Homo sapiens: one gene and its partners. The protein of the gene in region 7 interacts with the protein of the main gene of each other region in a pairwise test. Each region holds a gene or a part of one and is shown on either strand. Other genes may lie near its edges.

What was found.
Region 1: the proteins of EVI2B (region 7) and NINJ2 interact in binary tests that used the Homo sapiens proteins (3 or more experiments, as listed by UniProt).
Region 2: the proteins of EVI2B (region 7) and TRAM1L1 interact in binary tests that used the Homo sapiens proteins (3 or more experiments, as listed by UniProt).
Region 3: the proteins of EVI2B (region 7) and PGRMC1 interact in binary tests that used the Homo sapiens proteins (3 or more experiments, as listed by UniProt).
Region 4: the proteins of EVI2B (region 7) and SCAMP4 interact in binary tests that used the Homo sapiens proteins (3 or more experiments, as listed by UniProt).
Region 5: the proteins of EVI2B (region 7) and SLC30A2 interact in binary tests that used the Homo sapiens proteins (3 or more experiments, as listed by UniProt).
Region 6: the proteins of EVI2B (region 7) and SLC38A7 interact in binary tests that used the Homo sapiens proteins (3 or more experiments, as listed by UniProt).

What each region holds. Positions count from the first base shown.
Region 1 is NC_000012.12:566,125-570,015, reverse strand, and holds part of NINJ2 (ninjurin-2), read left to right. Parts: intron 1-3,837; coding exon 3,838-3,891. UniProt on the Homo sapiens protein: Its role in unclear. In contrast to NINJ1 paralog, does not mediate plasma membrane rupture (cytolysis) downstream of necroptotic and pyroptotic programmed cell death.
Region 2 is NC_000004.12:117,082,593-117,087,463, forward strand, and holds TRAM1L1 (translocating chain-associated membrane protein 1-like 1), read right to left. Parts: upstream 2,985-4,871; 5' UTR 2,802-2,984; coding exon 1,692-2,801; 3' UTR 962-1,691; downstream 1-961. UniProt on the Homo sapiens protein: Stimulatory or required for the translocation of secretory proteins across the ER membrane.
Region 3 is NC_000023.11:119,241,568-119,245,474, reverse strand, and holds the end of PGRMC1 (membrane-associated progesterone receptor component 1), read right to left. Parts: intron 2,325-3,907; coding exon 2,221-2,324; 3' UTR 1,009-2,220; downstream 1-1,008. UniProt on the Homo sapiens protein: Component of a progesterone-binding protein complex. Binds progesterone. Has many reported cellular functions (heme homeostasis, interaction with CYPs). Required for the maintenance of uterine histoarchitecture and normal female reproductive lifespan.
Region 4 is NC_000019.10:1,914,815-1,919,380, reverse strand, and holds part of SCAMP4 (secretory carrier-associated membrane protein 4), read right to left. Parts: intron 4,403-4,566; 5' UTR 4,362-4,402; coding exon 4,355-4,361; intron 1,688-4,354; coding exon 1,559-1,687; intron 1,255-1,558; coding exon 1,098-1,254; intron 493-1,097; coding exon 391-492; intron 1-390. UniProt on the Homo sapiens protein: Probably involved in membrane protein trafficking.
Region 5 is NC_000001.11:26,038,870-26,043,118, forward strand, and holds part of SLC30A2 (proton-coupled zinc antiporter SLC30A2), read right to left. Parts: intron 3,840-4,249; coding exon 3,680-3,839; intron 2,937-3,679; coding exon 2,831-2,936; intron 1,043-2,830; coding exon 908-1,042; intron 437-907; coding exon 291-436; 3' UTR 1-290.
Region 6 is NC_000016.10:58,670,790-58,675,355, forward strand, and holds part of SLC38A7 (sodium-coupled neutral amino acid transporter 7), read right to left. Parts: intron 4,554-4,566; coding exon of another isoform or gene 4,525-4,553; exon of another isoform or gene 4,461-4,524; intron 1,455-4,460; coding exon 1,307-1,454; intron 456-1,306; coding exon 256-455; exon of another isoform or gene 81-255; intron 1-80. UniProt on the Homo sapiens protein: Symporter that selectively cotransports sodium ions and amino acids, such as L-glutamine and L-asparagine from the lysosome into the cytoplasm and may participates in mTORC1 activation. The transport activity requires an acidic lysosomal lumen.
Region 7 is NC_000017.11:31,303,329-31,307,894, reverse strand, and holds the end of EVI2B (protein EVI2B precursor), read left to right. Parts: intron 1-2,264; 5' UTR 2,265-2,285; coding exon 2,286-3,632; 3' UTR 3,633-4,125; downstream 4,126-4,566. UniProt on the Homo sapiens protein: Required for granulocyte differentiation and functionality of hematopoietic progenitor cells through the control of cell cycle progression and survival of hematopoietic progenitor cells.

The DNA of each region.
Region 1 (3,891 bases), on a different chromosome or scaffold from region 7:
TCCCGTCCTGCGCGTGGGTTCCTCGGGGTGGAAACGCCCCCCGGCAGCCGCGGCGCCCAAGTCACGTCTCTGGACCGCGCGCGCCACCGTGTGGACACTCTGGAGCAGGCGGGGACACCCTGATCCCGCCCAGCACCCGCAGTGAAAGGCAGGCCCGAGTCGGCCCCGCATTTAGCGAGGAAAGGATGAGGCGCACCCCCTAAGCACACTGCGAGCCTCACGTCCTCTGTGAAGCAATGGCTCTCAGATTAATGTAACAACAAAAGCCAACCAGCTCTGTTAAAACTTACAAATGGCAATACCTTCCATAGAGGTTGGGAAGACCTCCGTGCTGCCCGTGTACTCACCCCTGCCACCCCCTGCCACCCCTTCCCCCACTATTTGGTCAGTGCTCAACACATGCCACTAGAGGTTTGGGTTTAAGGTTTTGTCCACTGTTAACGATACATTTGGGGGGAAGGGGGTCTGTCTCCCTCTGAGCTAGACCAGGAAGGAGGAGAAAGGGCAAAGCTTGCTGCTACTGCACAAACTGGAGGATGGGGAAGAGACAGGAGGGGTGGCACAGCCATGGGGCAGGGAGGCCAGGGGGCACAGTTGAACCTGGGCAGAGACACTTTGAATTTGGGTGCAGGGGGTGAGACTCTCTTGCCTAATGAGTGCTCTTGGAGACCGAGGACAAACCTTCACCAAATGGGCTAAGACCACAGGTTGCAGCCTTGGGGCTGACGGCGACCATGGGCCTTTGTGAAGTGTTGGCCCTGGGATCCCTGGCCCTAACCAACCATGCCAGCTGGCCCTAGACAAGCCAGCCTTGCTTGAACTGGATTTCCAAAGGCCCTGAACGCCGTGTGTGGCCTCCCAAGTCCATGCAGGTCCTCATTTACCCTCCATCCCTACCTCCTCCAACCTCACTGGCTGCCCCCAGCACCAGCTGAAACCCCGGCCCCAGCAAAATCAAACACGAAGGAAGATGGGAGAGATAGTGAGCACTCCATTCCTTTCGTGCCTATGGCCTTTTTTCTTATTTCTGTGGGCCCTGGGCCCCAGCCTGATTTTGGTGGCTGTCAAAAGGAGTTTGCCAGGGCCTGTTGTGAGCAGCCTGTGGCCCAGTGCTTACCCGGGGGGCGGGGGGGGGGGGGTGTCCTCACAGCCCCAAGCACCGCCTGGCATGTACAGTCAATCTATTGAATGAATGCTACCCGCTGGTCTCCATTCTACTCTCCCAGAGAAAGTGTTTAAATTGCTCCACTGGCCAAAGTGCACACTCCTGATTACCCTCTGTGAGTCCTGCCCCGTCCAGAAGTTGAGGACACTCGGAATCTCAATAATGAACAACCCAGGTGCAGGGAACTGCCCCGTGTAGAAAGCTGATGGCCTGGAGTGTGGTCAGAGTGAAAGAGCCACTCCTATATGTTTGATCCTCCAATGACTGGTCCACAGAGTCAGAGAGGGGCAGCCTGCGGGGCACAGGCTGCCAGGGTGGATTCCATCAGAGCAGGTGCTGTTAGCACCCATGACCACCCTGTGCCTCTTGAATGTGTCTGTGTGTGTGCACCCTCCTGGCAAACAGAGCAAAGGGCCAGGAGCTTGGAAAGGAAGTGAGAAGAGCAGGGTGGAGACGTGGGGCTGAGTTTTGAAGGCAAACGTTAGGAGAAGGACTGGGGAAGAGAGGCTCCCTTCTGTTGGCCTAGGAGAGGATTGGTCCAATCTGTAGCCAGGCATGTGGATTAGAGCTGGATCTCCAAAGACGAGTGCCCAAGACCATATTTTAGGATAAGAAAATTAAACTTCTATTTATATTGAATTTTATGTAATCCTTTCAAATGTTTCTACTTTTGCATATTTTACTATATATATAATTAGTCCAATAAAAATATGTATAGTTGATAATGGAAGAATGTACATATATTGAGGATGCATGGCCAAAACAGTTTTTAATGCTGAGATTACACTATCAAGAAAGTCTGGAGACTACTGCATTTCAGAGTTTTGTTTTTGTTTTTGTTTTGAGACAAGAGTCTTACTCTGCCACCCAGGCTAGAGTGCAATGGTGCGATCTCTGCTCACTGCAACCTCTGCCTCCTGGTTCAAGTGATTCTCCTGCCTCAGCCTCCTGAGTAGCTGGGATTACAGGCGTGTGACACCATACCCAGCTGATTTTTTTGTATTTTTAGTAGAGACGGGATTTTGCCATGTTGGCCAGGCTAGTCTCAAACTCCTGACCTCAAATGATCCCCCTGCCTTGGCCTCTCAAAGTGCTGGAGTTACGGGCATGAGCCACTGCACCCAGCCTCATTTCGGGGTATCCTAAGGGCTCATAGAATCCAAAGGTTCTGATAGATAGGTAAATCAGTTAGCCTATGTGTAAATCAACTGTCCTCTGTGTAAATCCCTGAGGTACAGAGAAGTGAAGTGACTTGCTGGGGCTGCACGAAGTACAAGGAACATTCCAGACCCTCTGAGACCTGCCTATCCAATCATCCACGCATCCATCCATCCACCCACCAATCTCTCCATCCATCCATCCATCCCTTCATCCATGAAGCTTTATTTTATACTTCAAAACAAAATCAAATGTAAATTATGCTTCAATAAATCCTAGCCAAAAAAATTAAAAACAAATTACGAGTGTTTAACTGGTATGCATCACTGTGCATATATAGGCACGCATCCATCTATCCATCCATCTGTCCCCACGCAGCAGGTATCTGTCCTGTCGTGGTGATCTGCTGGGTCATCTTCCCTACCTCCAGGCCATAGCATCCTTCAATCCATCCGTCTCTCCCCACTCTGCAGGTATCTGTCCTGTCATGGTGATCTGCTGGGTCATCTTCCCTACCTCCAGGCCGTAGCATCCTTCAGAGTCCTCCATTCCTTCCTGTCTCACCTTGCTCCACTTCAGTTCCTTTTCACCCTGATCCTAAATCAATACTATAACTTTTAAATGACTCTCCCTGCTTCTAGCCCTTCCTGGCCCAGTCTGTTCCAAGCACCACTGCTAAATCAATCTTCCAAGTACTCTTGAGTGACTGCAGATTGCCCTTGGTCATGGCGCCCAGTCTGAAATTCTTGGCCCAACCCAGAGGCCCACAGCATATGCCCTGTATTGTGATTCTGTCTTTTGGAGTTAGTGGCTTCTGGAGAAGCTTTAGTAAATTATGCTTCAATAAATCCTAGCCAAAAGTAATAATTAAAATGATGTGAGTGTTTAACTAGTATGCATTACTGTGTGTATACACTCATGCATGCATGCATGTGTATGCTGAGAGCCTGTGTCTGACAGCGTGTGTGCCTGAGCAGGGCGGCAGCTCCAGTGCTCCTGAGGGTTGGAAATCCAGCCGATGATCAGCTGCTGAGCTGTGCACCCTGCCTTGGGGGCCACAGCATTATGCGAGAGGAGGTGCCTTTCTCTATTTCACCCAAGCCTCCAAGCTCTTTTTATTGTCTTCTCAGGTGCTTTCCTCTCAGAGGAAAAGAACACAGCCCAAAGCTGAGGCCTGGCCCAGGTAAAATAGTGAATAGGGTGAGGAAGGTGCATTTTACCAGCAGCAGAGAACCCTCCCGGCTTTCTCCAGCCAGATGTGTGAAGGTGTGAGGGAAGGGGTGACTCTCCAGGAAGTATCAACTGCAACAGAATGTCATTTCAGAGTGCAGAGGTCCTTATGGGTTTTCTCGTCCAACCCTTCATTTTATCAGGCCATGAAACTAAGGGTGTCATTTGCCCTGAGCTTCCCATCTGGATTGGAAAGAGCTTTAAAACCTCTCTCCTCTCTCCCACCTCTCAACTGCTTCCCTTCCAGAGCTCCCCTTGGTAAGTCTGTGCTTTCTCCCCTACAGCCTGGAAGCTCCGACCCCAGGAGCCAGCCCATCAACCTGAACCATTACGCCACC
Region 2 (4,871 bases), on a different chromosome or scaffold from region 7:
CCAGTTTGAGTCAGATCTGCACTTATTTGTAAAGAAGTATACAATATATAGGGCATTTCTTACCAGGAGTGGGGTTACAGGTAATGGGCTAGAATGGTTTTAAAAAAAGAACTCTCTGTCATACGAGAAGGTAAAAATCTTTGTTTTTCAGTTGCATAAAGTTGGTTTACTTTGGACCTTACAACATGTGCTACCAATATTACAGTATTCAGTAACTGAAAACAAAAATAGGTAAGATGATGGATTCTATATTTAAAAAATGAAATCTTGCTTTGATATTTACTTCTGAAAGCAGACAGAAAGGAATGTTTTACCAAGAGTGGCTCTTCTGTCTGTGATCTGTAATAAAAGCATTAAACTTGATTTTGAGGGCCCTCCATGCTTGGGAGAGTTGAATTACTTAAACCAAAGAGAGGGCTGGCTATAAAATATTTAGAGATGAGAGACATAGTAGGAGAAAATATAACGGAATAGGAAATATATGGCCTTCCCCTAGCATATTTGTAAAGTACTGTCTTACTGAAAAATTATATAAACACATTATGGAAATAAAACTGAAATAAGGATTGAGAGGCAATACGTATAAATACTCACCCACTAATTCCCATTGTTTCCATTGGCTTCTGCAAAGATACAGATTATACATACATGTGTATGTAAATAATCTTCAAAATATGTCTTATACAGATAAATGTTCCCCAATTAAAGATGAAGACAAATAATCACAACATTATTTTTCAAAAGCCTTTCATGTGACTATCTGATTTTCAACTTATTGAAGGTTGATGCATAACATGCTTTCCAAATGTAATTAGCTGACTTTTTTTATACACATGCCAAGTATTATTTTTCAACCTGGTATACAAACAATATTTTTCTAAGATGCTGTGGTTACTGATCTTACAAGGCCTCATTAGGAATCATTTTTAATAAACATTTTTAAAAAAGACTAAGTTCAATGTCCTTTTTAAAGTAATATTTAATTTCATGAATTCCCATTTACAAGTGGAATGGACAGGAATGATTTTAATATTTTTATATTAATTAATGATATTTTGATGCAATATATATGGCAGCAAACCTCCATATGTGTTACCCATTAGTACTGTGTTTTTTTAAATGGGGATGAAGCACTAATAATCACTACCTGTAAAATAAAGAACATTTATTATTTTGGTGAGTCTAGCAATCTTTTCTGAGTTGTAAGTTCTTAAAAAATAAATTCTAACAATTACAGAATACTGATTTGACTTCCACCTTTTTCGTACTTTTATTTTACCCCAAAGCAAGCATTAAACACATAATCTTGCTAGGAGAGACCATCTTGTTAGTATTATGAAACACTGGTGGGAGTAAGAACCAGTATCATTGATATGCAAAATTGTGCAGTTATCTCTGCAAATCATTAGGAAAATGTTGAAAGGTTAAAAATCAAAACAAAATATAGTGGTGATCCCCAAAACTATTTTGACATTATTTTGACGATGAGTAATTTAGTCTCAACCAAAATCTTTTTTTCCCATTCATAATAATCCTCCTCCCCTCAAATGTCTTTAAAAAATACATGAAACAGTTCAATAACAAAAACCGAAGAGCACGAACTATTTTCAAAAACAGAAAAATCTCTAGTGCAGAAAGAAACCTCAAAGAGCAGATTCCTTTGCAGACATTAATCAATGCGCTTGCAAAGATTATGAAGATTTCTCTTTCCTCTTTGGCGGACAGTCTACTCTATTTGAAGTTTCCACTCCCACTCCGTTTTCTGTTCTTTTTTTAGAAGATCTCGACCGTTTCTTTTTCATACATGAGGCCTGAATATTAGAATCTTCTACCCACCTCTGAAGCCAGAGAGTAATTAAGTTCCATGTTACGTAGGCTTGGATCGTGCAACTGGACGACAGAACAGCAATTTTAGCTGCCAACACATTTACATTTCCAGTAAGGGCATCAGGATTCCGATTCTGCGATCCAGCCAGGTGAAACCCAACAGTGAGTACGGAAACAATTAAAGTCACAAGTCTACCCAAGATAAACACAATGGCCCACAGAGATATGCCTTTCTGGTACTTTTCATCACTAAAGTAAAACAGGCCGCACATGTGGGAAAGTAATTCAACAAAATAATGCAGTACCAAAAGAAGAAGTCCCAAATGATTCAAGTACAAGAGATAAGCTCCAGTAATGTGGAAGAGGTGAAGACCAATGTAGACAAGTTGACGAGGGATGTCTTGTTTTTTGGTTTTCTGGAAGTAGAGTTCAGGAAAAGCATGAAACCAGTAAGCCAACTGGGATATGTAGAAAAACTTCATTTGAAATGTCATCATGCTATGGGGACGAGCCTTCCATATAAGAGTTGGGTCTGACAGGCAGTTTTCAGAGATTAAAATGAATGTGCCCCAAATACAAGAAAAAAAGTAGAACACACTAAACTGACCAGACTCGTTAAACTTGTTTTGTTTCGCTTTGGTGAACTGCATTCTCTTGTTAATTTTATCCAACACATATTCCTGAATTGTGGCATGAATAATGATTGCCACCAGCATGTAGAAGAAAACCGTGGCCAAATCTTTGACACCATAATAATAGAGGGACTTTGAGCCCGTGGCTTGTTCCTCTGCTGCAGGGACAGCAACACTGTGCTGAAGAGTGAGAAACACGATGGATGCTTCTGCTGTTCCCTCGAACACAAGCCCCAGCAGGAAGAACATCCCCACGCAGGAGACGATGTCCGCATGATTCTGCAGGATGAATTCCTGGCTGAGAACGGGGGGGTTCTTGGTGCTCTTCTTACGGAGCCCCATGGTGGCGCTTCCCGGATACTCACCGGCGAGCCGCAGCTGCCTCCCCCTGGCTGCTCCTCACAGCGCCGCCGCCACGGTAGCAGCTCCGGGGGCTCCACTTCCCATCCCGAAGTCAGTCCCGGGTCGCAGCGGCCGCCCAGAAAAAAAATAAATCAAAGGCGAGGGCCGAGCTGAGCTGAGCATGCGCACCAGGGGGACGGCGGAGGCAGGGAAGGAAATCGAGCGCCGCGCCCCTACCCGGCGCCAGGCCCGGGGTTGCGAGCGGTGATCTTCAACGTTGATCGTCGCATCTTCAAACTCGCTGCCACCGCCAAGATGCTCCTGAATTCTTTTTTTTAGTGGCATCTTCATTAGTAATCATGATAAACCTATAGAGCTCTGGTTATTCTTCAGATCATTAATTATAACAACAATAGCATAATAATAACAGCAAACTCCCAGTACTAATTACCAGTTGCTGTGCTAAGCATTTTATTTATATTTATGAATTTAACTTTCCTGAAACACCCAGTGAGGTAGATACTGTGATAATCTCCCCTCCCCCACCCCTTTTCAAGAGACAAAACACTGAGGCACAGAGAGGTTAAGTAATATGGCCAAATTCACCTCCCTAGTAAGGGTTAGAGCAAAGATTTAAATCCAGTCCGGCTCCAGAGCGCCTGTTTTTCACTATTACGCTGTATTGTCTCTTATTGTAAATCAATTATACCTGGAAATATTTACTAGGTCAACAAGATAGCATATTAAAACTAGTTCCCCTATTTGCAATAATAATAATGTTTGAAATGATAACGTCTAGCCAGTATTTTGAAAGACTGGCACTTAGAGGGAGAGATGTATTAGTTCATGGAAAGGTCTCTTTTTGGCTACAAAGCTCAAAACTTAATTTCTTCATTATAACAGAAAAGAACCTCATATGTCATTTGTGTAGGTTTTGCATATATGGAGGAATTGTGAATTGAAGTTTCCCAAGACTTCACGTAGGATTTGGAAACTTTCAAGACTGGAACAGCCAGAAAGTAGAATCCTCATTGAACACTTGCAACATTCAGACAAGATCCAAGGAAAGCTACACTGTTTTAAGTAAGGCTAAACTTGCCCTAAGGATAAAGCTAATTCATGCTTATAAACACAAAGTTTATAAGAAGCCTTGAAAAGGTTAAGGTACTCTAGGACTGTCTACCAGAATGCCTACTTATGGCCTCTAGGTGCATTGTTGGCATTAGCATGAAAGGGTGGCTTAATGCTCCAAAAGTGGGATTTCTAGCAAGCAAGACAGAAAGTAAATGGCCTTTTATGACCTAGTATTAGAAGTTATATTATATAATTTTCAATACCAAGGTAGGCACAAGCCTGTTTTACTTCAAGGTGGAGTGAGGATGGAGGGGAGGGTGTGGACCATACACATCAACTTTTAATGAGAAATGTACCTAGTATTTGCTAATTTTTTAAAAATAGCCACATCCTTTCCGTTGGGAATAAATTTTGTTTCCTCTGACATGAAATATACACTTTTTCCTTCCAATGCAAACAATAGTCTCATATCAATATAGCATCAGGTTCAGGCTTCTTACACAGGATATTTTTGTAAGCTAAATCAGATCCAGGAGCAGATAAAGGAAAGTCCTATCCTTTGTTGTACTTACTCTTGGTCTGAAGACTTGTGAACTAAAAGAATAAAGTTTTTGGCTCCCACACACCCAAAGCGTAGGAAAAATGCAACAGACACTTCCATCTACGAGTGAGAAAATGGATGCACACAGCAGTCAATAATCAATAATAACTATAAGATACATCCAGGTAAAGTTCCTAGATTTTGGTTTGAGTCCAATCTTCCTTTCTAGGAAATGGTGAAAGATTTTTTTCCCTAAAACATGGATTAAATATTATAAGTTGATTTGTTTCTGTATGTTGGCTTGCATATATTAAAAGATAAAAGACACTAGAAGCCAAATAGTGTTAACGTAATACTGTTTATCTTTGTCTTTGTCATGTAATAGTCATTGATTATAGAATTAATTCTGGAGTATTAATTACACATTAATACTTCAAGGAATTAACGTTGAATAA
Region 3 (3,907 bases), on a different chromosome or scaffold from region 7:
CTTAGGCCACACATAAAATACACTAACACTAACGAGAGCTGATGAGCTAAAAAAAAAAAAAAAATTGCAAAAAAAACCTCATGTTTTAAGAAAGTTTACAAATTTGTGTTGAGCTACATTCAAAGCTTTCCTGGGCCGCATGCAGCCCGTGGGCCATGGGTTGGACAAGCTTGCTCTGGATATTTTCCTCTTGGCAGCAGACAAGCCTGTTTAACTTTGCAAAATGAGTAGCCTAATCTTCACATGCACATGAGATTTCAGGCTGCGAAGGTGGGCCCAACTTCTCTCCCCCACTCCTTCTCCAAAGCATAAGGCATAACAGGTTACATGGCACAAAACAGGCACTCAAACATTTGGTGAATGAAACCAAGTGGGAAAAAAAAAGAGCACATTAAAAAAAACTCACAAGTACCTGCAATGTGGTTTGATAACATGAAAAATGGAAATTTCTTTGGTTCAGGAAGTATATCTCTTATAAGAAAACTCTGCCAATGTTAACATTAAAATGACAAAACACTAATAGGTTGTCTTTGTTTATACAACTGACTGCATATGCAAATCTGTTATGCTTCTTTTGACACGAGGTGAATTAACTTTGCTACTGTAAGGATTCCTGATACTTTCCTGATCAGACAATACATTAACACAAAAAAACCCAAACCCTTCCTTAGCACTTGGCAATGACAATGCCTTCAGTAACCTTACTTCTTAAGAACCTTGCTATAGACTTCAAGGTGGAGGTCTGCCATTTACAGTTTAGAAAGTTCTGATTTAGGCAAAACTTTGACAAGTCACAAAAAAAGCAATTCAATTCACTATTTCTTAAACAGGACAAGCTGGTATTTGGTTTTTGGTGTGGGGTCTCCATGAAATTTTGCCCCTTGTTTCTTTTGGAATACAAAAACTCTGCACTCAAAAATGAAACTGAATTTTAAGCCAAAGTAAAATGTCTGAATCAGATTCCCTAGAATAAGGTTTTTAAAAAAATTTAAATAAGTCACCACACTATAGTGGGTAAAACCATTTTTATTAACTGACCAAAGCACATCATTTTGTTTTCTGATTTGAGGTAAAATCATAAAACACAGTTCACAAGAAAATACAATGACTATTTAACCACAATTACAAGTTTGAAATCTCACTAGGTGTTCATATACTTTTACAAATTCATACAACTGTATAGTCTACTTAAGCTTAGTGTTAACCAAAAGAGCAATATCAAAGACCTAGACACTTGACTACTACTTTTGCAGTGGGTATAGTTTTATAACAACAGAATAACTGTTACCTTATGAATATACTTTACTTTAAAAACCACTTGACTAGCGACTGTACTGTTTCCTCGTGGTTCAGGGGTGTGCATGAAGGCTCTTAGGAGAGCAAACACCTGTTCCTATTCTGTATGTCCCTCCCTCATTTCAAATGAGAGTAACCAATTGAGTAAAATAACCAAATAACCATTGCCCCACCATGAACATGGGGCTTGGGAAGACAGTCCTACAATCTTCATCATATATTTAGGTTTTTAGGCCAGCCAGCTCTTTTTTTCCAAAGCTTTCTTTTGAATGTTCAGATCCTATTTTAATCCTAACTATAGACTACTGTGTTTGTGAGGGTGTCTGAGTGTCTATGTGAGGGCAAGGACAACAGTGCAGTCCAGAAACACAGAAAATATGCTTTTTTGCAGCTGAGCTCTGTTTTGAGATTTCATTTTGTTACTGGACAGCGCTTAATCCATACCAAAGTCTTTGGAACACTGCAGATTTGCTTTAGAGGTAGATAAAACAGAAATCATGCAGTTAAGTCAATTGAGAAAAAAAAAGGGATTTGTTGTCTTTACAGAACATCATGACTAAAAGTTGATCCTTTGCTCTTGGTGCACATTTAAGATTTTTACCTGTTTTGGGAAATACCCAAGTCTTCCTTGTCTCTCAGGAAAAACACATTTAAATTCATCCTGTACTAACTACAGATAGAAGAAAAACAGTATTAACATGTGTATTACAGCACTGCAGTTCACTTTCTGGATTTGTGACACACAAACACATCATGCATTCTAAGAAGTTAATTTTATTAGTGTCACTAGTGATGTTAATTAAAAAACTTATAGCAAGTGCTCAAAACTTTCTAAATATTGTAATCACTATGTTTTAAAGACAGAGTGGACTGTTACAAATGATTTTGCAAAATACAAAAATAGATATACTTCCACTGAATGCTTTAATCATTTTTCCGGGCACTCTCATCTTTTGGTTCTTCCTCATCTGAGTACACAGTGGGCTCCTCCCCCTCCTTCAGCAGTTTGCCCACGTGATGATACTTGACTGGAGGTAGAGAAGAAAACACAAATGGTCATTCTCATTCTTTCTAAAACATCATTACCACGTTTCAATTTAAAGCATTTATTAGAGGCCTGCAATATACTCAGCAATGTGTTGGGCTTCTTGAAGGATACAAAGGTGGTTTATACCACCGTCCTTGCCAACAGGGAATTTGTTTTGTTCAGAAGACAGACATATAAAACAGGTGGCAACGTCTGGCAATGAGTGTGCAAGGTAACGTCAAAATGAATTGTTTGTGTGTAAGGAATGTTTAGAAGAACAAGGGCAAGTGATGAGTTCATCAGAAGGGTTACAGAATACTTCATGGAAGGAGGATATATTTTGGAAAAATGTATAGAAGGATTTAGGGAGGGAGTTCCAGAAAATGCAAACGCCATGTACAAATGCATACAGGTGAGACAACGTATCTGGGAAGCAATGAAGAGACCAAGTTGGCAGGAGTAGAGTTAACATTTAGAAGTTAGTAGGAGATAAGATTGGCTAAGTAGTGTGGGGAAATATTATGAAAGATCTGAAAAGCCAGCCTGAGTTTGGACTTATAGGTGGCAAAGGGCACTGAAGGTTTATAAGCGAAGGAATGACACAGTAAAATAGTGCTTTAACAACGATATTATCAATGTGGTGTATAGGGCAGATTTCAGTAAGGAGAGACTGGGAACAGGGCGATCCAGAGGCAGAGTGCAGATCCAGATGCAAAGGAACCAGCGCCAGGAGCAGGGTGGTGTCCAGGGGAATGGAAAGGGACAGATGAGAAGTACTTTGAAAGAAAACTGGAAGCATGAATTAATTAAGTGAAAATTGGAGCTCCCATGGACCAAAATGGGAACTCTGTGGAGGGAGCCATTCTGGAGGCTCACATGACAGGAGATCTAAAACATGGAATGGACAAGTGAAGTCAGGATTGGCAAGAAAAAAAAAAAAGGTTTCCCTGAAAATCTTTCAGAAAGAGAGTTCAATCCAATTGTGGGGATAGAAGCCATATTGTAGGGAGGAAGAAGGTATAGAGAGGAAATGAAGTAGTGGTTAGGAATAAAAACTTGTAAGAAGTTTGTTTGACAGTGAAAGGAAGGAATAATAGTCTCATAGATGAAGAGGAGAGCAAGAGACAGAACGTTTTTCCCAGCACAGAGAAAAACCTATGGGTGGTTAAAGGAAGTGGTAAAGGAGCCAGGAGATGACTGGAGGTGTTGGAGAAAACAGATGTAAGGGTGCAAACCAGAATGCAAAAGACTTGAGAAGAGATGGCATCAGCAAACCACCTCATCACTGTAGCCAAACTAATGCAGGGTCGATCATCTGAATGTCCAAAGCCAAGAGTCTCCTCTTCCTGAATATGAGTAGGAATTAGAGGAGTAACCAACCTGTCTAACCAGGTAACTAAAGCTGCTTTTGTGTGAAATAACCGTTGGGAACAATTGGAACTGTGTGAGACAAATAAAAGCCAGGTGGCTCCTGGGAAACCTGCCTTAAGGGGAATCCACACCAACTTTAAGTGTAGCTGAGGTGTCACAACAGCATCTGGGGCTAGCCTTAAAGTGGAAAAAAAAAATCACACTTTTTCTCCC
Region 4 (4,566 bases), on a different chromosome or scaffold from region 7:
TTTTTACAGATGTACAGGTCTTCCTCCTGCAGCGATCCGTGCAGAAACATCAGCAGCCAGGAACTGGCTCCCAGACCCCGGGTCAGGGGTGTGATCAACACTCAGGAGACAAGCCTGGCTGGGCGCTGGCGAGGACGCAGGCACTGCCAGGGCGAGCTCGGACCCCTCCCTAGGAGAGTGCCTACAATCGCGAACCATGGCTGGGTGCTGGCGAGGACGCGGGCGCTGGCGAGGACGCGGGCGCTGCCAGGGTGAGCTCAGACCCCTCCCTAGGAGAGCGCGTACAATCCCGGACCAGCACGCTCCGGTGGCCGCCTGGCTTCCCAGCAGGCCCACAACCTGGCAGCTGAGCCACATCACAGCCACCACGCCCATCAGAGAGAGGCTTACCACGCGCCCCAGCCGGAGAAGCCAATCGCCTGGATGACGGTCAGGACAAACTGGGCTCCGAAGATGAAGAAAAACGCCATGAAATTAAAGGAGCTGTCGGCTCTGGGGAGGGACAGAAAACACGACGGTTACCACAGCCCTGGCTTCTCCCAGACGCGCCTAGAGAGGAACGGGCCAGTCAGAGATGGTGAGAGCGGAGGCTCTATTTTATTCCTTTTTTTTTTTTTTTGAGATGGAGTCTCACTCTGTCGCCCAGGCTGGAGAGCAGTGTCGAGATCTCGGCTCACTGCAACCTCTGCCTCCCGGGTTCAAGCGATTCTCTTGCCTCAGCCTCCTGAGTAGCTGGGATTATAGGCGCCCGCAACCACGCCTGGCTAATTTTTGTACCTATAGTAGAGACAGCGTTTCACCATGTTGGCCAGGCTGGTCTTGAACTCCTGACCTCAGGTGATCCGCCTGCCTCGGCCTCCCAAAGTGCTGGGATTATAGGCCTGAGCCACTGCACCCAGCCAAAATTACTAGAAAGCAAAACAAAACAGACAGTAGTTGGCTCTGGCTTGTGGGCCACAGTTTGCCACCCCCAGATGTGAACTGTCTTTCACACTGGGCAGAGAAAGGGACAGCTCCTCACAGCTGGGCTGGGACTGGGGTGCAGAGTGGGCCCTGGTTCCCTCTGGGTGCAGACGGCCCCCGGCAGCTCTGCTCACCGGAAGGCCTTGTAGACAGGCCGGAACCAGCACACGTAGCCGCAAGGCGTGAACAGGAGCAGCCACACGAAGGCCAGGCCGAAGTTGGTCCCCGAGCCTCCGCCGATCCACCAGGCCAGGCAGGCAATGAGGTTGACGCCGAGGGTGGCGCAGTAAACTGCGAAGAGAGAGGGAGGACGGATGAGCAGGCACGGGAGGGTGTGGCCGTGGGAAAGCATGGGCCCAGCAATGGGGCACCCGCTGTCCGCCTCCCCAGCCCAGTGACCCCATGTCGAGGATGAACTGTGCAAGCCAAGACACTGGGGCCTGGACACCAGCCTCGTTCACCGCAGGGACCACCAGGCCCAGGACGGCTTCAGTAGACGGTGGGCCCCCGACGGGCTGCCCCTGCCTGAATGCCACTCCCTCCCTCGGGGAGCCCTGCCTCCCGCTTCCCGCCTCCTGCCCCCAGGCGCACTCACACATCCACAGCCGGTAGATCCTCTTCACCAGGACCTGGTGCTCCACTGGGATCTCGTCGGAGAAGTTCTGGTAGAAGCAGGGCTTCACAGGGATGAACTTGGGCAGTGGCGGGAAGTTGTTCTCCTTTTCTGTAGGGACAGAGAACCCACGGACAGAACCAGACTTTGTCTCTTGAAGGAGGCCCCACCTCATCCCTTCGACCCAAGGCTGGGTTGCCTCTCATGGCAGAAGGGACTCTGCAGTTGGGATTGAGGGCAGGACGCTGAGACAGGAGAGGGTCCTCGTGGCAGCCTCACGAGAGGAGACGGGAGGGTGGGAGTCAGAGAGAAACGGGAAGAGGCTGCGCTGAGGCTGTGAAGGGGGAGAAAGGGGCCCTGAGTGGAGGGATGGGGGCGCCTCTAGACGCTGGGCAAGGCGGGAACCGGCCTACAGCTTGATGTTAGCGTTTCTGGTCTCCAGAACTGTCAGATAACTGATTTCACTGTTTTAAGGAACTAAGTTTATGACTCTTTTTTTGAGACGGAGTCTCGCGCTGTCTCCCAGGCTAGAGGGCAGTGGTGCGATCTCGGCTCACTGCAGCCTCTGCCTCCCAAGCTCAAGTGATTCTTCTGCCTCAGCCTCCCAAGTAGCTGGGATTACAGGCGCCCACCACCACACCCGGCTAATTTTTGGATTTTTCTTTTTAGTAGACACGAGGTTTCACCATGTTGGCCAGGCTGGTTTTGAACTCCTGACCTCAAATAATCCGCCCACCTCTGCCTCCCAAAGTGCTGGGATAACAGGCGTGAGCCACCGCGCCCGGCCGAAATTGTTTTTTAAATTTACGTGTCACCCTTCATGCAGGGCCCTGCTACTCTTCGTAGCCCTCCTCCATGTTTAGTGTGGGTGCGGCTGCAGCAGGCTGCATTTAGTATCATTCCCTCCGGCAGGCAGGGACGCCAACATGCAGGCTCAGCAGGCCGAGTCCGCACACTGCGGGGAGGCTGTGGCCTGGGGACGCTTCCGTTCCCCATGGCTGCTGTGAGAAACCACCACCGACTGGGAGGCTTAGAACAACAGAAACTGCCCAGGTGTGGGGGCTCCCACCTGTGATCTCAGCACTTTTGGAGGCTGAGGCAGGAGGGCTGCTGGAGCCCAGGAGTTCCAGATCAGCCTGGCAACCTAGCGAGACCCCAACTCTACAAAAACTACAAAAATTAGCCAAGCGTGGTGGTGCGTGCCTGTGGTCCCAGCTTCTCGGGAGGCTGAGGCAGGAGGATCGCTTGAACCCAGGAAGTTAAAGCTGCAGTGAGCTATGATCACACCACTGCACTCCAGCCTGGGAGAGACCCAGACCCTGTCTCAAAACAAAACAAAGAACACAACAAATATTTATCTGCTAACAGTCCTGGAGGCCAGAAATCTGAGATCAAGGTGTCTCAGGAACGCGCTCCCTCTGCAGGCTCCGGGGAAGGAGCCTTCCTGCCTCTCTCAAGCAGCTTCTGGGGGATCCCAGCGCCCTTGGCTCATGGCCGCATAGCTCTGGCCTCTGCCTCCATCTCCACGACGACTCCTCCTGTATCTCCATGTCTTTTTTTTTTTTTTGAGATCCAGTCTCACTCTGTCACCCAGGCTGGAGTGCAGTGGCGTGATCTCGGCTCACCACAACTCCGCCTCCCAGGTTCAAGCGATTCTCCTGCCTCAGCCTCCCAAGTAGCTGGGACTACAGGTGCTGTGCCACCATGCCCAGCTAATATTTTTAGTAGGGATGGGGTTTCACTATGCTGTCCAGGCTGGTCTCAAACTCCTGACCTCATCATCTGCCCACCTCGGCCTCCCAAAAGTGCTGGGATTACAGGCGTGAGCCACCACGCCCGGACCATCTCTTTTTTTTTTTTCTGAGACAGTCTCGCTCTGTCACCCAGGCTGGAGTGCAGTGGCCCGATCTCGCTCACTGCAAGCTCCGCCTCCCGGGTTCACACCATTCTCCTGCCTCAGCCTCTCGAGTAGCTGGGACTACAGGCACCCGCCACCACGCCCAGCTAATTTTTTGTATTTTTAGTAGAGACGGGGTTTCACCGTGTTAGCCAGGATGGTCTCGATCTCCTGACCTCGTGATCCACCCGCCTCGGCCTCCCAAAGTGCTGGGATTACAGGCGTGAGCCACCGTGCCCGGCCTCCATCTCTTCTTATAAACACAGCAGGCACTGGGATGAGAGCTCGCCCTGCTCCAGTACTTTATCTTAACTCCATCACGTCCGGAGTTAAGGCCATATTCCCAAATGAGGTCCCACTCACAGGTTCCAGGGATCAAGATGGGAACACAGCCTTTGGGGCACTCAGCGTGGCACTGGGAGCCCCCCAGGAGCTTCTGCTCAGCCAGCACTGCCTGAGGAAGTGTCCCTGGGCGCCTGCGAGGGCCAGATGGGGAGTCAGACAGCAAGAGGCCCTGTCCTCAGGGGCTTACGCCCCACTGGGGAAGGCTGCCAGTAAATGAGTGGGTGAGGGACCCCGGGGCACATGAGAACACGCCCGCTGCTATAAGGAAAGAGCAGCTGTGATGGCAGGGGCACCCGGCTGGGCTGTGCTTCGGGTCAGTGAGGCGTCCGAGCGGATACACAGGCGGCTCTGCTGTCCTTTGCCCCCAGCAGAGGCGTGACTCCAGCTGTGCTGGGCTACGGGACCCGAGGAGTCAGAGGCCAGGTGGGCCAGGAGGACACTGTTTGCCAACGGCCAGGACCGAGGGCTCCTGTGGGAACTGCTGGCATCTCCCTCCCGCCCACGCTGCTGGAGGCTCCCAGGCAGGCAGGACTCACCTGACATCTCTGTTTCACCAACCAGCGCAGGCTGAAGCCTGCAGCCGCCTGGAAGGAAGACAACCACAGTCAGGGAACCCTGAGCTGCCCTGGGCAGAGCGCTAACCACCCACCCACCGTGGCTGAAAAGCCCTTCATCGTGCCCTGTGCTCTGGAAACAGCAGTGGGCTAAGCGGGAGCCACAGGCCTGACTCGACCCAATGTGTTACCCC
Region 5 (4,249 bases), on a different chromosome or scaffold from region 7:
GAGTGGTAGAACATTTGCTGAGGATTAGGCCCAAATACAGCCCTTCCAGAGCTGGCCCAGGAGCTGGAAGAGCAGGGTCACACTAGCTTTATACCCGCTGAGTCCCCACCCTGGCTGTAGTCAGATGGGAGGCTGGGAAGAGCTCCATTCCTGGAGTGGGGCAGAGGTCAGGAGGGGGACCTGGTTTACAACACAGCTGGGGTAGGCAAAGTCCTGGCTGGGCCTGGGGGACACTCAGTCCAGCCACCTGCAGGTCCTGTTCATGCCCCAGTTGGTGCCTGGCTGAGCAGTCAGTCTGAGGGGCCCTGGCATGCCTGACAGTCCTTCATGTCCTCCGAGTAGTCCTCGATCTGGATGGTCACGGTGTGGAAGTGGAACTTCCCTTGGAGGCGGCTGCTGGCTGTCTTCAGCACAGCCTGGGCGTCTGTATTCTGAGCTGGGGGCCGAGAGGACACAGCGGGGGAAGCCATTTACTCTGGCCCTTTGGAACCATCAGGAGCCCAAATCTCATACCCCATCCCCAGCAGAACAGGATGGGGGACCATGAACATGGAGAAGCCCCCAGATTCCATTCCTCTGCCAGGTAGCCTCCCAGCCCAGACCTGGCTCATGCCTGAAAGAGCTGGTAAAGCACTGGCCTTAAGGCCAGGAATCTGCCACCTACTGCCATATACTAGCTGTAAAAGCCTGGGCAAGTAACTTTACCACCCAACCCCAGCCTCAGTTTCTTCATGGATAAATGAGATTGTGCTGATCAGATGGAATAATGCGTATCAAGTACTCAGCATGAGGCTGGGCTTGATGCATGGGCACTGTGAGCATCTGGGGTCACCTGGACCCGTTGGGGATGGCACTAGGCCTTTGGCTGCCTGTCTCCCACCCCACCCTGAGTGTCCCAAGCACTCACCAATGGCGATGTGGACAGACAGAACAGGCTGGGCCACCGTCAGTGCCCAGATATGCAGGCTGTGCAGGGCTTCTACCCCCTCCACCGACAGCAGCAGATCACGAACAGCTGTGAAGTCAACGCCCTTGGGGGTCCCTGAGGACGGCAAGGACAGGGGAAACTAAAGGAAACTACCCCTCCCACGCCTGCCCATTGGTGCAGGGCTGGCTCCTGATCCTCAGGTGTCATCCCCTCAAAGAAGACCTCTTTGGCCTGCAGGTCTGAGGCTGCCTTCACCTCCCAAGGTCTCTGCCCTATCACTCTGTTGTATTTCCTCTCCACTCTTAACACTGAAATTATTTATGAATGTACTTATTGTCAGTTTCTCCCTCTAAAATGGACACTCCATGAGGGCAGGACAGTCTCCTTTGATTACCACAGTATCCTTGGTGCCTAAAACAGCACCTACTCCATAGTAGGTGCTCAATAAATATATTTTTTGGTTTTTTTTGAGACGGAATCTTGCTCTGTCACCCAGGCTGGAGTGCAGTGGCGTGATCTTGGCTCACTGCAACCTCTGCCTCCCTGGTTCAAGCAATTATCCTGCCTCAGCCTCCTGAGTAGCTGGGACTACAGGCGCATGCCACCACGCCCGGCTAATTTTTGTATTTTTGGTAGAGACAGGGTTTCACTGTGTTAGCCAGGCTGGTCTTGAACTCCTGACCTCAGGTAATCTGCCTGCCTCGGCCTCCCACAGTGCTGGGATTACAGGTGTGAGCCACCGCACCTGGCCAATAAATATATTTTTGAATGGAAAGAAGGAAAGAACAGATCCTGAGAATCCTTGGACCCACCCAGGGCACGATCATCATCTTCATCATTATCGCTTTCATCTGGGTTAGCATATTCTTGGAGAAAAAGCTCTGACCTGCAGCCAAATACTGCTAAGCCCAGGCCAGCATCCTACTCCATTCCAGACTGACCCTGACCACGCAGAGGCCTATGACCCTGGCCCAAGACCCCAGGCCTAGAGCATAAGAAAGCCAAGGTGCAGGGCCAGGTGTGGTGGCTCACATCTGTAACTCCAGCACTTTGAGAGGCCGAAGTGAGATGATTGCTTGAGCCCAAAAGTTCGAGACCAGCCAGGGCAACATAGTGAGACCCCCCCCCCATCTCTACAAACATTTAAAAGTTAGCCAGACATGGTGGCATGCGCCTGTGGTCCCAGCTACTTGGGAGGCTGAGGCAGGAGGATTACTTGAGCCTAGGAGGTCAAGGCTGCGGTGAGCCTTGGTGGCACCACTGCACTCTAGCTTGGATGACAGAGCAAGACCCTGTTTCAAAAAAAAGAAAAAAGAAAAAAAAAAGGTAATTCAGGGCAGACCAGATCATTCTCCACCACTGACCGTTCTCCAACCCCACAAAGCACAGCCATGTCCCCACAGGGTGTGGCATTGTTTGGTCCCTGAGATGTAGGAAAGGCCTGCGCTGCAGTGGATTCAGTAGCTTTGTCCAAGGCTGACTGTCCTTCTCTGAGCCTCAGTCTGCCCCTCTGTGCAATGAGAAGCATAATCCTCACCCCCTCTCTCTTCCTGAGAGAAGGCAGCCAGAGCCTGGGGAAGTGTATAGGGGAGGGCTGGAGAGCTCCAGATGCTACAGATGTCCCCCAGAAGCCACCTGACTAGGCAGAGGAGGCACCCTTAGGGGTAGGGGGAAGGGAAGACTCGGGCTGGGGGACGGTTCCAGGAACTGCCACACCTGAAAGCCCAGGCTCTATGTCAAGATCAGCCCAGGGGCCCCAGGAGGTTTTCCAGCCTATGCCGGGGCTCCGGATCCTGGCTCCCCGCCCATGTGCTAGGATGCCCCAGACACACACATACCCTATTTGAGCTGATTAGCGCTTGAGAGCCAAGAGCAAAAAGGGAGCCACAAAGCCCAGGTTACCTTCCATCAACACCAGGATCACATCTCTCAGGATGGTCAAGGTTGTCCCCAGGACCAGGATGGAGAAGACGAAGGTGCAGATGGGGTCTACATACTTGTATTCTGGCTGCAGGAAGACAGGAAGGCAGACCTGGAGTTCACCATCTAACACCTCAGCTTCCCTTCTCCCCTCCCACCCAGCACTGCTGGGGAGAGGTGCTCTCTCTGCTGGGTGGGCATGAGCCTCGCCCTGGCCCTGCCTCCCAGTTTTCTGCTCTTTATTTCACATCTGCAAGAGCAGAAAGGACAGACCACAGTTCAGAATAAGGCAGTCCCTTCCCACCCCTCCTTCTCAAGGAGCTGAGACATGGACAGAGCAAAAAGGCATCTTAGATACCATCTGATCCGCCATCCGTCCCCATTTGACAGATGGGGAAATTGAGGCTCCATTAGAGCAAGCAAACTCATCCAATGTCACATGGCTAGCAAGGAGGAGAGCCAAGCTTCAGAGCAAATGCCTGCCTCTTTCCACTACAGCTCCCTGCCTCTATGTGATGGGCATTGCCCAGGGTTTGACAACACACAGTCGTAGGCTTGAATCTGGCTCTATGCTTTACCGGCTGTGTGACACTGTGCAAGTCACTGAACCTTTCTGAGCTACAGAAAACACTACCACCTACCCTTCAGGTTGTTGTGAGGATCAGAAGTGCTGACACTTGGTAGGTATTGGATAAATGTTCCTTTCCTCTCCCCACCCTTTTCCCTAGAACTGGGAGGGAGCTAGAATCTGAAAAGAAACCCCGGTAGAGAGTATACTCAGGTGGTCTACACTCCCCTGCCACCCCCACCACCCTGTGTCCCAGCTCTGACCTTGAAGTATAAAATATAGGCTGCCACTAGGACACCCATGCTCTGCATAAAGTCGCCGATCACATGGATGAAGGCAGCTCGGACGCTGGGGTTCTCCTCCTGCTGGTTGGTGGTGCCGTGGCTGTGCCCATGGCCAGACTGGTGAAGGGTCAACCCCATTCTATGGAAGTGGAGACAAAGCCAAGGGCTCACTGAGGTCGCAGATGGAGGTCACCTATTAGGACTAGCCAACTTGTAGGGCAAAAATCTCAAGCCCCTAAACCTTGTGATCTCTTTGGCCATGTGAGAAGTCCAACCCACGTGGCCTTGGTTCAGACAGCCATGAGAGATAGGGCCCAGCGCCAATGCCAGGCTGAGCCTGGGCACAACAATGCCACAGTGTCAAATCTCAGAGCAGGAGGGCATTAGGGAGGTCACTGTCAGTTCACTCCATCATGTCACAGATGGGGAAACTGAGGCCTCTGAACAAAGACCCCGAAAGAGACACCCATTGTCTCTAACTGAGACCAATTTCAGACTTGGGTTCTGCCCCTAGGGACAGCTACTCCTGCAACAACTGGCCTCTTCCCG
Region 6 (4,566 bases), on a different chromosome or scaffold from region 7:
GAGTTTGTTAAGCTCTAGGCAAGTCTGTGACCCTTTCTGAGCCCCACGTGCCATCAGTAAACTGGAGATCACAACTATACCTTCTTTCCAGGAGATAATGCTTGGATAGGGGCTAGTACAGAGGCGAGACAGGTGATCAATTAGTGCTGGTGGTTACTCTCTCCTGCATGTTTTGAGCAAGTAGGGAGCTGAGGCTAGGCAGGCCCTGGGAGTCTGTGCTGTGGGGCTGTGAGATGGGGCGCCAGGGGTCCGCACCTGGGAAGACGAAGATGAAGCAGGCGGCCAGGCCTCCAATGACTGAGATCACCTTGCCGATGTCAGGGATGAAGAGCGCCAGCAGCAGGGTGAGCAGGAACCAGACCAGCGTCTGCAGCACTCGCCGCCGCCGCTCCCGCCCCACGTCCTCCTCCACTGGCACCCCCTGGTAGCGCAGCCACAGGCCTTCCACCACCGCCCTGCCCACATGGAGAAGGGCTTAGAGGTGCCCCTGCTGCTAGCAGCTCCCCACCTCTAGCTCACAGGAGCCAGACCCCTAACTGGGTAGACTGCGGGGAAAGCCCCATTCCTGACCCTCAGTTTCCTCTTCTGTAAAATGGGCCACCAGCACTCTGTTTACCACAGGGACTAGAGACGGTGAATGTCGAGAGCTTAGCACTTTGCTTTACATCACATGGAAACTGATATTGTTTTTTCCTTAAAAGGAACTGTCTGGGGCATCCAAAGGGGAGGGTGTCCATGTGAAAGCTCAGGAAAGGATCTGGATAGAGATTCTTTTGTTTTTTGTTTTTTTGAGACAGGGTCTGGCTCTCTCACCCAGGCTGGAGTGCAGTGGTGCAATCTTGGCTCACTGCAGCCTTGAACTCCTGGGCTCCAGCCATCCTTCTGCCTCAGCCTCCCAAGTGGCTGAGTAGCTGGGACCACAGGTGCATCCCACCACACCTGGCTATTTATTTTATTTTGTGTAGAGATGGGGTCTCACTAGGTTGCCCAGGTGGTCTTGAACTCCCAGGCTCAAGCGATCCTTCTGCCTCAGCCTCCCAAAGTGCTGGGTTTAGAGACGTGAGCCACCGTGCCATGCCATGGATAGAGATTCTTACAGGACTCACGGAATGTTCTGGTGACCCCAGGACAAAGGGCGCTTCTGACACCTGGCCTGGGATATGTAGGGACCCATCCTAGGCACCGACTCTTTTCTACAGGCTTCAGTTTCTCCTTCTACAGGATGGGGTCCACACAAGGCCAAAGGACCATGTTGGAAGCGCTCACAGGGGCTAGGAGGGGCCCTGGGGAGTGGAAGGGGGCTCACCGCCCACAGAAGTGCAGGATAGGGTAGGAGGTGAGCACGCTCAGGATGATGAAGGCTCGGGCAACGGCCACGGCCATGTCCTCCGAGGGATAGGACAGGAGCACGTCAGGATCCACAGCAGCTCCAAAGGTCAGGAAGCCACAGATGCCTGTGGGCAGGGACAACTGGGTCAGGGCAACCCTGGGAGGGTAGTGGGGTGGACTGTCCACTCCTCCTAGGAGCAACATCAGCCTGGAGGCTGCAGCAGCAGCTCTGGACACTTAGACGGAGGCTCAGAGTGGGAGATGGGGCTCCGATCAGATGCCTCCCTCCCTGACTTCTCAGATCCCCCATCGCTGGAAGCCCTCCAGCCCCCAGCTTTCTGAGCCTGAACTTGCCCAGCACATTCCCACCTCAGTGCCTTGGCACTGACTGTTCTGTCTGGCAGACCTTCAGATGCCATCTCCTTATCATTTGGGTCTCAGTTTAGATGTCCTTCCTCAGAGAATGCTTCCTGCCAGTCCATCTACAATGACCCCCACCCCAGGCACTCTCTCACATCACGCTGTCTTATTTTTCTTTTCTTTTTTGAGACAGAGTCTTGCCCTGTTACCCAGACTAGAGCGCAGTAGTGTGATCATGGCTCACTGCAGCCTTGACCTCCTCGGCTCAAGCGATTCTCCCACCTGAGCCTCCCAGGTAGCTAGGACTACAGGCAGATGCCACCACACCCAGCTAATTTTCTTGTAGAGATGGGGTCTTGCTACGTTTCCCAGTCTGGTCTTGAACTCCTGGGCTCAAGTAATCCTCCTACCTCACCCTCCCAGAGTGTGAGCCACTACACCCAGCCTTCTTCTTTTTTATTTTTTTGAGATGGAGTTTCACTCTTGTTGCCCAGGCTGGCACGCGGTGGCACGATCTCGGCTCAGTGCAGCCTCCACTTCCCAGGTTCAAGTGATTCTCCTGCCTCAGCCTCCTGAGTAGCTGGGATTACACCATGCCCGGCTAATTTTTTTTTTTTTTTTTTTTTTTTTTTTTGAGATGGAGTCGCGCTCTGTCATGCCCAGGCTGGAGTACAATGGCATGATCTTGGTCTCCTGGGTTCTCATGCCTCAGCCTCCTAAGCAGCTGGGATTACAGTCACCTGCCGCCACACCTGGCTAATTTTTTTTTTTTTTTGAGATGGAGTTTTGCTCTTTCACCCAGGCTGGAATGCAGTGGTGCGATTTCAGCTTACTGCCACCTCTGCCTTCTGGTTTTAAGTGATTCTCCTGCCACAGACTCCCGAGTAGCTGGGATTACAGGCGCCCGCCACCAAGCCTGACTAATTTTTGTATTTTTAGTAGAAATGAGGTTTCACTATGTTGGCCAGGCTGGTCTCGAACTCCTGACCTCGTCATCCGCCTGCCTCGGGAAGTGCTGGGATTACAGGCGTGAGCCACCACGCCCAGCCCTAATTTTTTTATTTTTAGTAAGATGGGGTTTCGCCATGTTGGTTGGGCTGGTCTCGAACTCCTGACCTCATGTGATCTGCCTGCCTGGGCCTCCCAAAGTGCTGGGATCACAGGCGTGAGCCCCAGTGCCTGGCCGTTTTTTTTTTTTTTTTTAAAGACAGGATCTTGCTCTGTCACTCAGGCTGGAGTGAAGTGGTACAATCATAGTTCCACTGTAGTCTTGAATTCTTAGACTCAAGTTCCTCCTGACTTGGCCTCCCAAGTCACTGGGACTACAGGCACATGCCACCATGCCTGGCTAATTTTTTTTTTTTGAAGACAGAGTCTCACTTTCTCCCCCAGGCTGGAGTGCAGCGGCGCGATCTTGGCTCACTGCAACCTCGGCCTCCCAGGTTCAAGTGATTCTCATGCCTTAGCCTCCCGAGTAGCTGGGATTACAGGCACCACCACCACGCCCGGCTAATTTTTGTAATTTTGATAGAGACAGGGTTTTGCCATGTTGGCCAGGCTGGTCTCGAACTCCTGGCCTCAAGTGATTCACCCACCTTGGCCTCTCAAAGTCCTGGGATTACAGGCGTGAGCCACCATGCCTGGCGGACGCCCAGCTAATTCTTTAATTTTTGTAGAGATGAGTCTCACTATGTTGCCGAGGCTGGTCTTGAACTCCTGGCCTCAAGCGGTTCTCCCATCTCAGCTTTTCAAAGTGTTGGGATTACAGGCATGATCCACTGGGCCTGTCCCCTAACACTCATTTCTCTCTTTTTTAGAGACAGGGTCTCACTCTGTTGCCCAGTTTGGAGTGTAATGGCATGATCATGGGTCTCTACAGCCTTGATCTCATAGGCTCAAGCGATCCTCCCACCTCAGCCTCCCAAGTAGCTGGGTCCACAGGTGCATGTTACCATAACCTGGCTAATTTTTAAATTTTTTGTAGAGATGGAGTTTCACCATGTTGCCCAGCCTGTCTTGAACTCCTGGGCTCCAGAGAACCTCCCACCTTGGCCTCCCATAGCTGAGATTATAGGTGTGAGCCACTGTGACTGGCCTCATCGCTTTCTAATTTTTTTTTAACTGTACTATCACACTGGTCTTTAAGTAAACAATAATACAAATAAAAATAATAACAATAATAATAGTAATTAATTTTTACAGGCTTATTTTCTGTCTCCCCAGCCAGGACATGAGCCCCAGGAGAATAGGGATTTGGCTGTTTGCCTCTCTTGTTCCTGGCTGTGTATTCAGAGGCTAGAACAGTATTGGCCCAGGCAGCTCCTACGGTCTATCCGTGGAAAGAACTCAGGGGATCCTTCTTCCAGGGTCTCCTAGACTTGCTCCCTCACCCCAACCACTCTCCACACGGCAGCCAGAGCCACCTTTCCCCGAACCACCCCCCTGCTTAAAACACTTCCTCGATGACTCCCAGCAGCCCTCGAGGCCCAACAGGATCTGGCTGCCAGTGCCTGTCTGGCCTCACTGCCTTCACCTGCCCCCATCACACACCACTCCAGCCACATAGACTTTCTTCCTGGCCCTGCCTCAGTGATTTGGTGTTTTGTGGTTCCTCTGCCTGGAACCCTTCTTCCCCAGCTCCTCCTCTTCTGGCTCTTTCTCATCATTTGGGCCTTCTCTGAGAAGAACCTTCTGTGAACCACTCCCAAAGCCACCCATCCAGTCCCATTCATACCTTCCCCATTTTAGGCTGGGTTGGTGGCTCATGCCTGTAACCCCAGCACTTTGGGAGGCCGAGGCAGGAGAATTGCTTGAGCCCAGGAATTCAAGACCAGGCTAGGCAACATAGTGAGACCTTGTCTCTGCTAGAAAAAAAAA
Region 7 (4,566 bases):
CTGAAAAGGTAATTTGTAAAACCTTTATTGCACCTTCCAACAGAACATCAAATCTCTCTAAATATAGGCTTATGAGTCAGAAGAACTATAGTTTCTAATCATGTATACCAATATCTAACACCCTAAGATTTTCTATTCCCTAATGTTAAGAGATAACCAAATAGTTGCCATTGTGTTTGATGATGTGCAAAACAAGTATATTATACCAAAAGTTGCAAATTGTCTCAGTAGAACTCTTCACTTTAGAGGAAAGGCAATTGAGAACAGGAAAGGTTAAGCAACTAGTTCTCATGGTTAGACAGGTAGTTAGATGGGAGAAGTAGAACTGAAACTTAACTCTCCAAGTTTTAGCATCTACCACATCCCAGAAAAAGCCCTATCTGCCAAACTTTCATATGTGCCTTATTTTCCTGTGCCCACATTGTTGCTCTCCCTGGCTGGAAACTTAATTAGTTTTTATAGACTTTTAAAATTCAGTTCAAGCTTTACTTCACTGAAGCCTTTCCAGGCTAGGTTAACTTCTCTGTACATCTCCTGCATACTTTTATGAGAAAGCTTATCAAATTATTGTAATTGGGCCAGGCGTGGTGGCTCACACCTGTAATCCCAGCACTTTGGGAGGCCAAGGCAGGCAGATCACCTGAGGTCAGTTCTCGAGCAGCCTGGCCAACACGGTGAAACCCCGTCTGTGCTAAAAATACAAAAATAGGCCAGGCGTGGTGATGTGTACCTGTAATCCCAGCTACTTGGAGGCTGAGAGAGGAGAATCAGTTGAACCTGGGAAGCGGAATTTGCAGTGAGCCCAGATTGTGCCACTACACTCCAGCCTGGGTGACAGAGTAAGACTGTCTTGAAAAAAAAAAAATTATTGTAATTATTTTTTAGCTTTTTTTCTTTCTTCTTTTTATTTAGAGATGGGATCTTACTATGTGGTCCATGCTGTTCTTGAACTCCTGGCCTCAAACGATCCTCCCATCTTGGCTTCCCAAAGTGCTGGGATTACAGGAATGAGCCACTACGCCTGGCCTTTACTGTTTGCTTCTATCACTAGAATCTGAAACACTTAAAGGCAGTGACTATCTTTTTTTTTTTTTTTTAATCTCCTAAACCTAGAACAGAGCTCCACACAAATGTGGCATTTACCAATAGATGAATGAAAGCAGCAGCAGGACTACTTGACCAACTGGATTGAATTTACTCCACCAGATTCAGAGATCACTCTAGGATTTTAAGCCTAAGACTCTGAGTTGAATGAAATTCTTTAAAAATATGCAATATTAACATAAGGCTACCACGCTACAGAGACACTAAGGATGCTTCAAAGATTACTAATAGACTCTGTGCCTAAGAAACTTAGTGGTACCATTAACAGATACAGAGAAGTTGGGAGAAGAGTCAGTTGTCAGTTGTGAGGGTAAAGATGAACTCCATTTTAAATATGTTGAATTTGCTGATAGTGGGAGATATTTATATCTATATCTATGTCTATCTATCTATATATATAAAATATGGAAAAATCCACCAAGAAGTCACACAAATAGAATTAGGACAAAGAAGATGTAGGCTGGAGGTACAGGTTTAGGAATTGTGGCATAAAGCTGAGAACTAAAATCTTACAGAATCAGGAACAAAGAAAAGTAGGTAAGGGTGAGGACAGAATATCAATTAACCATATTTAGGAGGCAGAAGAAAAAGAGCTAGTGAGAGTAACATGAAAGGAAGACTGATTACAAAAAGCTACTTGAATATTAGTGAAGGAACAGTAGTGTCTAATGTGGTCAAGGAGGGGAGGGGAGAGAAGAAATAAAGAACAATTAGATTAGGTAACAGATGATCACTGGTGTTCTTCAAGGCAGGAGAATCAATATATTTCTAGTAGAAAATGGTGAAAAAAGGTAGAGAACACATGGATCCAGCATATAGAGCCTATGCGTTTTGAGAAGTATGACTAAGTGAAGTACTGAAATATAATGAAGCTAGAGGGGCAGCAGAGCCAAGTACAGAACTTGTATTAATAAAAGAAGAGAGATCACTGCTTATGAGGTCCAAATGCTGTATGATGGGTTAGAGTATATCCAAGAGTTGTTACACCAAACCTACAGTGTATCAAGTCTAAATTAGGAATAATAACTACTAATCAACTACTACTAATTAGGAATAATGTCTACCTACTTTATGCCAGGAATCATAATGAAAAGTCAAATTTTTAACTAGACACCAATGACGCCTAACTGTCTTTCTCTTTCATTATAAACCCGCTATAGATAACGAGGAAATATTCTGAAATGGATCCCAAATATTTCATCTTAATTTTGTTTTGTGGACACCTGAACAATACATTTTTTTCAAAGACAGAGACAATTACAACAGAGAAGCAGTCACAGCCTACCTTATTCACATCATCAATGTCACAGGTATTGGCTAATTCTCAAAACACAACAGGGAATCCTTTGGGTCAACCAACACAATTCAGCGACACTTTTTCTGGACAATCAATATCACCTGCCAAAGTCACTGCTGGACAACCAACACCAGCTGTCTATACCTCTTCTGAAAAACCAGAAGCACATACTTCTGCTGGACAACCACTTGCCTACAACACCAAACAACCAACACCAATAGCCAACACCTCCTCCCAGCAAGCCGTGTTCACCTCTGCCAGACAACTACCATCTGCCCGTACTTCTACCACACAACCACCAAAGTCATTTGTCTATACTTTTACTCAACAATCATCATCTGTCCAGATCCCTTCTAGAAAACAAATAACTGTTCATAATCCATCCACACAACCAACATCAACTGTCAAAAATTCACCTAGGAGTACACCAGGATTTATCTTAGATACTACCAGTAACAAACAAACCCCACAAAAAAACAATTATAATTCAATAGCTGCCATACTAATTGGTGTACTTCTGACTTCTATGTTGGTAGCTATAATCATCATTGTACTTTGGAAATGCTTAAGGAAACCAGTTTTAAATGATCAAAATTGGGCAGGTAGATCTCCATTTGCTGATGGAGAAACCCCTGACATTTGTATGGATAACATCAGAGAAAATGAAATATCCACAAAACGTACATCAATCATTTCACTTACACCCTGGAAACCAAGCAAAAGCACACTTTTAGCAGATGACTTAGAAATTAAGTTGTTTGAATCAAGTGAAAACATTGAAGACTCCAACAACCCCAAAACAGAGAAAATAAAAGATCAAGTAAATGGTACATCAGAAGATAGTGCTGATGGTTCAACAGTTGGAACTGCTGTTTCTTCTTCAGATGATGCAGATCTGCCTCCACCACCTCCCCTTCTGGATTTGGAAGGACAGGAAAGTAACCAATCTGACAAACCCACAATGACAATTGTATCTCCTCTTCCAAATGATTCTACTAGTCTCCCTCCATCTCTGGACTGTCTCAATCAAGACTGTGGAGATCATAAATCTGAGATAATACAATCATTTCCACCGCTTGACTCACTTAACTTGCCCCTGCCACCAGTAGATTTTATGAAAAACCAAGAAGATTCCAACCTTGAGATCCAGTGTCAGGAGTTCTCTATTCCTCCCAACTCTGATCAAGATCTTAATGAATCCCTGCCACCTCCACCTGCAGAACTGTTATAAATATTACAACTTGCTTTTTAGCTGATCTTCCATCCTCAAATGACTCTTTTTTCTTTATATGTTAACATATATAAAATGGCAACTGATAGTCAATTTTGATTTTTATTCAGGAACTATCTGAAATCTGCTCAGAGCCTATGTGCATAGATGAAACTTTTTTTTAAAAAAAGTTATTTAACAGTAATCTATTTACTAATTATAGTACCTATCTTTAAAGTATAGTACATTTTACATATGTAAATGGTATGTTTCAATAATTTAAGAACTCTGAAACAATCTACATATACTTATTACCCAGTACAGTTTTTTTTCCCCTGAAAAGCTGTGTATAAAATTATGGTGAATAAACTTTTATGTTTCCATTTCAAAGACCAGGGTGGAGAGGAATAAGAGACTAAGTATATGCTTCAAGTTTTAAATTAATACCTCAAGTATTAAATAAATATTCCAAGTTTGTGGGAATGGGAGATTAAAATGCATGTTTGAGAATAGAGAAATTTTCTTCTTGGTTTCATTGCAAAGAGTAAAACAAACATGTTAAAACATCAACTGAAGGGTTGGGTTAGGAACATTTACCCTGAAAAAAATATGAGGATGCATCATAAAATGTAAATATTTTCCTACCATGTTGGGGGGGCACAAATTTTAAAACTGGCATCTTTACAAGTTTCTTCTTTATAAACACCCAAACAAAATCAAGTTTTATAAAGCAAAAAAAAGGAAAAGAAGACTATGGCTTCATTCTAAATACGGGTGACTTTGGGTGATTTTTTTTTCAGGAAAAGAGACTATCAAAACACAGATGATTCTCAACTTTTTACTAAACTTATACTTTCTGATGCTATCCACTCTTAAGTCACCTTTCTTACACAGAATTTCATCTTTATCCATTATCTGACAATTGGTAAGTCTGAGTTATTAGAGTAGGAATGGG